Regions from separate parts of the Homo sapiens genome. Here region 1 is linked to region 2. The links come from fine-mapping of genetic effects on gene expression. A gene starts in region 2. The other region holds a variant in brackets. All regions are shown on one strand. Distances are from middle to middle.

The links. PIP is the estimated chance that this variant, and not a neighbour inherited with it, causes the effect.
Region 1: its variant is fine-mapped to the expression of LINC00921 in hypothalamus (GTEx, PIP 0.98).

What each region holds. Positions count from the first base shown.
Region 1 is chr16:3,305,511-3,308,416 of GRCh38, forward strand. It overlaps ZNF75A (zinc finger protein 75A), which reads left to right. Exons shown (of 7, transcript NM_001302109.2): 1 at 1-133; 2 at 2,803-2,906. Among named protein-coding and RNA genes, the nearest start is that of ZNF75A, 1.5 kb to the left of the region's middle. RefSeq lists an enhancer at 1-10. The variant T/C (reference allele first, on the strand shown) is at 1,324.
Region 2 is chr16:3,262,246-3,265,151 of GRCh38, forward strand. LINC00921 (long intergenic non-protein coding RNA 921) reads left to right here and starts at 1,523. Exons shown (of 2, transcript NR_033904.1): 1 at 1,523-2,906. RefSeq lists enhancers at 1,584-1,743, 2,184-2,283, 2,434-2,503 and a silencer at 1,764-1,943.

The sequences.
Region 1 (2,906 bases), 43 kb after region 2:
CCTGGACAGGGCTGCGGTAGGCCAGCGGTGGGCTGGCGGTTGCGCTCCTCAGATCGGCGGCCTTTCGGGCGGTGGCTTGCGTTTGAGCCTCAGAAAGCGAGGAGCGGCCTCCACGGAAGCCAAGCTGGCCGAGGTAACCGAGAAGCGGCTTCCCCTATGGCTTCGACCCTGGAGCCGCTGGAGCGGCGGCGGCCGCAGGGAGGCAGCCATTTTCCGTAGGCGGTGGCCGCGGCGCTTCCGGGCCGCGCGGCTGGAGCCTGAGGCGGGGCCACCGTCGGGCACGAGAAACCATTCTCTCCCCGCTTTTCGCAGCTGTATCCCAGAGGCGCGGCTGAAGCTCGCTGGGACACTGCCCGCTTGCCCAGTGCCCACGGGCACGCCTGTCGCAGACACAGGCTGTGGCGAATCCGAGTGCTGGCGGGCAGCAGTGCCTGCAGCTGCGCCCGCAGACTCTTTCCCGCCTCCGCCGGCATTTCCGTGTCCGGCCGATGTCATGCGGTCGGTTGAGCCTCAGGGCTAGCAGCTTCTACTGATGCAAAAACATAGGAAGTGTCTCTTTGCTTCTGGAACCGGGGTGGGCAGCAAGGAGCTGGCCACTTCTTTGAATACCGGTGGCATCCTGGGCAGAATTTCGGTGCCGTTTCTGCTGGCTCACTTCAGGAAAAGTGAGGCTCACGGCTCTCCTCAGCCCCCCTTAGAAGTCTAAATGACCTTTGGAGAAATACAAAGTCAGCAGAAAGTTTCACTTTCATCGTCACCAACTCCTGTTGGAGTTGATATTTCATAAACATCAGCGACAGAAAGAAAATACGACTTGATATTTTGTAAATAAAATATCCTTTTTTACAAGTTGATATTTTGTAAACAGAGGTCAGCTGTAATTTTCTCCAGATCAAGTAAGCACAGTTAAAAATTCATATAGGCCTGGCGCGGTGTTTGACGCCTGTAATCCCAGCACTTTGGGAGGCCAAGATGGGTGGATCACGAGGTCAGGAGATCGAGACCACCCTGGCCAAGATGGTGAAACCCTGTCTCTACTAAAAACACAAAAATTAGCCGGGCATGGTGGCACGCGCCTGTAATCCCAGCTAGTCGGGAGGCTGAGGCAGGAGAATGGCTTCAACCGGGGAGGTGGAAGTTGCAGTGAGCTGAGATCACGCCACTGCACTCCAGCCTGGGTGACAGGGCGAGACTCCATCTCAAAAAAAAAAACAAAATTCGTATAAATCATCTGCATGGCACCCTTTATGTGTGTTGCAAAGAATGATGAGCATCTTGTTGCTTACTTGGGAGACATTGTCTGAAAATAGGCTACTTTTTTAC[T/C]TTCTGTAGTACCCCCTCCCCCCACTGTATCTGGGTTTCACTTACCCGCTGTCAACTGCCATCCAAAAAATATTAAATGGAAAACTCCAGAAATAAACAGTTCATAAGTTTTAAATAACTTTTTTTTTTTTTTTTGGAGATGGAATCTCGTTTTGCTGCCCTGGCTGGAGTGCCGTGGCACAGTCTGAGCTCACTGCAGCCTTCACCTCCCGGGTTCAAACAATTTTCCTGCCTCAGCCTCCTGGGTAGCTGGGACTACAGGCGCGCACTACCACACCTGGCTAATTTTTGTGTTTACAATAAAGAAGGTTTCACCATGTTGGCCAGGCTGGTCTTGAAGTCCTGGTCTCAGGTGATCCACCCACGTCAGGCCTCCCAAAGTGCTGGGATTACAGGCATGAGCCACGGCGCACCGCCAGTTTTAAATAACTCTTACTACAGTGTTTTATTGTTAATCTCTTATTGTACCTAATTTATAAATTAAGGTATCATAGCTATGTATACATAGAGAAAATAGTATAATGCAGTTAGATGCTGTTGGGGGTTTTAGGTATTCACAGAATGTACTGGAACTTACCCCCCTTGGAGAAGGGATACTACTGTATTTTGATCTCACCGTCTCAGCTCTTTTGCCAGTATTCCTACAATGGAAAATCTAAAATGTTGTTTTTTAAGGTGCCTTTATTTTTAGTTTTTAAATTAGAGACAAAGTCTTGCTCTAACTCCCAGGCTGGAGTGCAGTGATGAGGTCATGGCTCACTGCAACCTTGAATTCCTGGGCTCAGGCGACTCTCCCACCTCAGCCTCCTGAGCTAGAACTACTGGTGTGCTCTACCATCCTGGCTATTTTTTTTTTTTTTCTTCAAATTTTGTGTTTTGTAGAGACGGGGTCTCGCTATGTTGCTCAGGCTGGTCTGAAACTCCTGGCTCAAGTGATCCTCCCACCTCGGTCTCCAAAAGTGCTGGGAATGCAGGCATGAGCCACTGCACCTGGCCTAAAATATTTTTAAAGTGAAGGCTTCCATCTTCACAAGAGGATGAAGGGTCATAAAAGTTGTACTCCCCTTACTAGAGACAGACTGGGATGATCTGTTGAAATTTAAGAGAATCTCAGAATGTTTTCCTAATCTTATTTTCTCCTATTCTTTTCTTATGGGGAAGATGGGATAGGAGGCACACCAGTTAAATCCTTGGAAAATCCCAAAATACCTTTCAGCCAGTGGGTGCCAATTTTCTTACCCACCAATCTTTCCTAAATTGTTTTCTTTTTTATAAAAAAGACAGTTGTCCACTGACATTTGTGTGTTTTGTGCTGTGCTTCAGCTGAATAATAGAAAAGGAGAAAAACAAAGGGCCTGCTAGTTGATTTTGAAGGGAAGACAGGACACCTTTTCTGTTCTTCTTTCTCTCATAAGTCGCAAGTGATGAGGTTCATGTGAGTTTCTTATTGATACATACTTTTCTTTTTCTTGTCCTCAGTGCTTTTAGGAAGAAGATCCTTTTATTGCTTTTGTACAAGACCAGACAGGATCTCATTTGTTAAACGTGGTACCAATTGGGTGTCTTAACACAGGAGCAGAACT
Region 2 (2,906 bases):
CAGCACTTTGGGAAGCCAAGGAAGGTGGATCACCTGAGGTCAGAAGTTCGAGATAAGCCTGGCCAACATGGTGAAAGCCCGTCTCTACTGAAAATACAAAAATTTGCTGAGTGTGGTGGTGATGTGCGCGTAGTCCCAGCTACTCTGGAGGCTGAGGTGAATCACCTGAACCTGGGAGGCGGAGGTTGCAGTGACCTGTGATCGCACCACTGTACTCTGGCCTGGGTGAAAGAGTGAGACTGTTTCAAAAAAAGAAAGAAAAGAAAAGAGAACACTCTGGCTTCCATAAGAGACAAGAGATGAGAAAGGTGGAAACAGAGAGGAGAAAGCAATCTATTGTCACAATGCAGGAAAGCGACTGCAGGGCCCTGAACCACTGTGGAGGCAGAAGGGTCAGATTCTGGGTGATTCTGAAAGCAGGGCTGACATGATAAGGGTAGACTGGATACTGGCGGGTGTGAAGATGCATCTAAGATACCTGTTTCTGGCCAGATTTTACAAAGGGCCCTTGTTGCTACCTTAAGGAGTTAGTGTTGAATCCTGCAGCAGCTAAGAGCTTCTGCAGGATCTCCCTCTCAACTTGGACCAACCCACCTGCCGATCCCAGCCCAGATCAATGAGATCTGCTGCCCAGTCCCCTACGCAGATAACACTAATTGTAACTGATCTTTCTGAGGGCACCTCCTGAGCAGCTTGGAAACGGAGGGAGAGGAGAGGAAGCCAGCTTCCCAAAGTGGGGTGTGGCAGGTGGCCTTAACCCTGCTGAAGGGCTGCAGTCATGGGGCTCTGAATAGATCCCCACACCACTCACCAATGAGCTTCATTTGGAAGGCGGTAACGTTAAACAAGAGGGTTTGTAAAAAATAAAGGCCTACACACATAATTTTTTCTGATTATTAAATCTAGGTGGAGAGTACGTGAGTATTCATGTTACTCTCTCAACTTTCTTGTGCTTAAAAATCTTAAAATAAAAACTTTAATACGCTCTGTCCTACCAATATTTATAGGAACCTGACTAGCAGCCAGGCTTTGGACACGCAATCCCCGGCCACCAAAGGGCTGACAGGCTAGTGAAAGGGGCAGAAAAATAACAAAACTGTGTCTGGAAGGCAGCTACTCCCTTTTTTTGTTTGTTTGTTTTTTGAGACGCAGTCTCACTCTGTCGCCCATGCTGGAGTGCAGTGGCGCGATCTTAGCTCACTACATGTGCCTCCGGGGTTCAAGCGATTCTCCTGCCTCAGCCTCCTGAGTAGCTGGGACTACAGGCGCGCGCCACCACGCCCGGCTAATTTTTGTATTTTTTAGTAGAGACAGGGTTTCACCATATTGGTCAGGCTGGTCTCGAACTCCTGACCTCGCGATCCGACCGCCTCGGCCTCCCAAAGTGGTGGGATTACAGGCGTGAGCCACCGCGCCCGGCCCTTTGTTTTCTTACCAACTAAGCAGCAGCACTGACACTGTTTCCTTTGAGGTTCCGTTTGCTGAATCCTGCCCTCTAAGGTGCTCCGCCCTTCCACTCCCCGCCCCGTGCTGCTGTCATTCCCACGCCTCACCCTGTTTTGCAACTTCTTGTTTATGAGCCTGGAAGCCACGAAGTGGTGGGAAATACGAGATTCAAATATCTGGTGGCCGTGTGACGTGAGTAAATTACTCGATTTTTCTCAGTTTCCATTTCCTATCAAATGGGTTGTTCTGGGAATTCGGGGAAGTAACAGTGCCGGGAACCGCGGGAGGAACCGCCAGCTGCGTCCTCGGACGTCCCCAAAGCCCAGGGCGGCGACTGGCACGACTGTCAGGGGCGCGTCTGTTAAGAGGACAGGGGGTCCCGCCCCGGCACAGCCGTCTCCTCCAGGACCCCTCCCGCCGACGCCCCACGGACCCCACGCCCGAGCGGAGACCGGCGCGAGTCCGGGGTCTCCGGTCCGGCAGCCCCTCCCTGGCCCGGCGCCCCAAAGGGAAGCGGCCTGGGGGAGGAGACGTGTGGAAAGAGCGGCAGAAGATAAAGAGGAAGTAGCGGTAGAGAATAAAAAGGAACTGTCCGCAGTGTGCCCGGACGCGGGGAGGCGCTGGGGTCAAGCGAGACCCGACCTGCACGCAATTCCCGCCGGGGTCCCGGCCTGCCTGCGGGAGGGAAAGGACCCAGGGCGGCTTCTGCCAAAAGTGCGGCTTCTGCCGAAAGTGCGTCTTCTGCCGAGGGGCCCACATAAGGCGCGACAGACACTCCAGCCCGACCCCGACGCCCCGCCCTCACGCATGCACATGCGCGGAACACTCCCAGAAACACATCTCCCAGAGCGCCCCGGGAGCACGCGAGCCAATTGGAGGGCGGATTAGCGGGGGCCCACGTCTCCCAGAGGTCTCCGAGTCGCGGCTCTGTTGGTCTGATTGGCAGCCGCAACAGCCTATAGCTGCTTTTCGCCGGAGGGGCCACGCGCCGTTTGCCGGGACTGAGCCGCTGTTGTCGCTGGTATCCCGGGAGCAGCGCCGGCAAGTGGAGTCGTCGTATTCCGGGCGGCCCGCGGCCCACGGGGATGGGACGTCCCGGGGCTGTGCTGACCCCAAAACCCTTCCACACTTTATTAGCCTGTCGCCCTTCTTTCATGTTTACAGCAAATATTTTCCGAGTGCCTAATGTGTCCCACTTACTGTGCCACGTGCGAGGGTGCACGTGTCAGGCAAGATCGCTGTTCCAAGGAGGCTGAGAACAAGTAAATGGTAATTACCAGTTATGACCAAAGCTGTGAAAGGAACAGATACATCAGCCTAACAGCAGCACTGCCGTTTTCTCCCTTATAATCAGCAGAGGCGGGCTAGAGCAAGGATTCTCAAACTCTGCCCCCTCAGAACCCTAGAGTACGGTTGCTGAAACTTCTGTTTTTTCCTTTTGAACAAATCTAGTAACATGC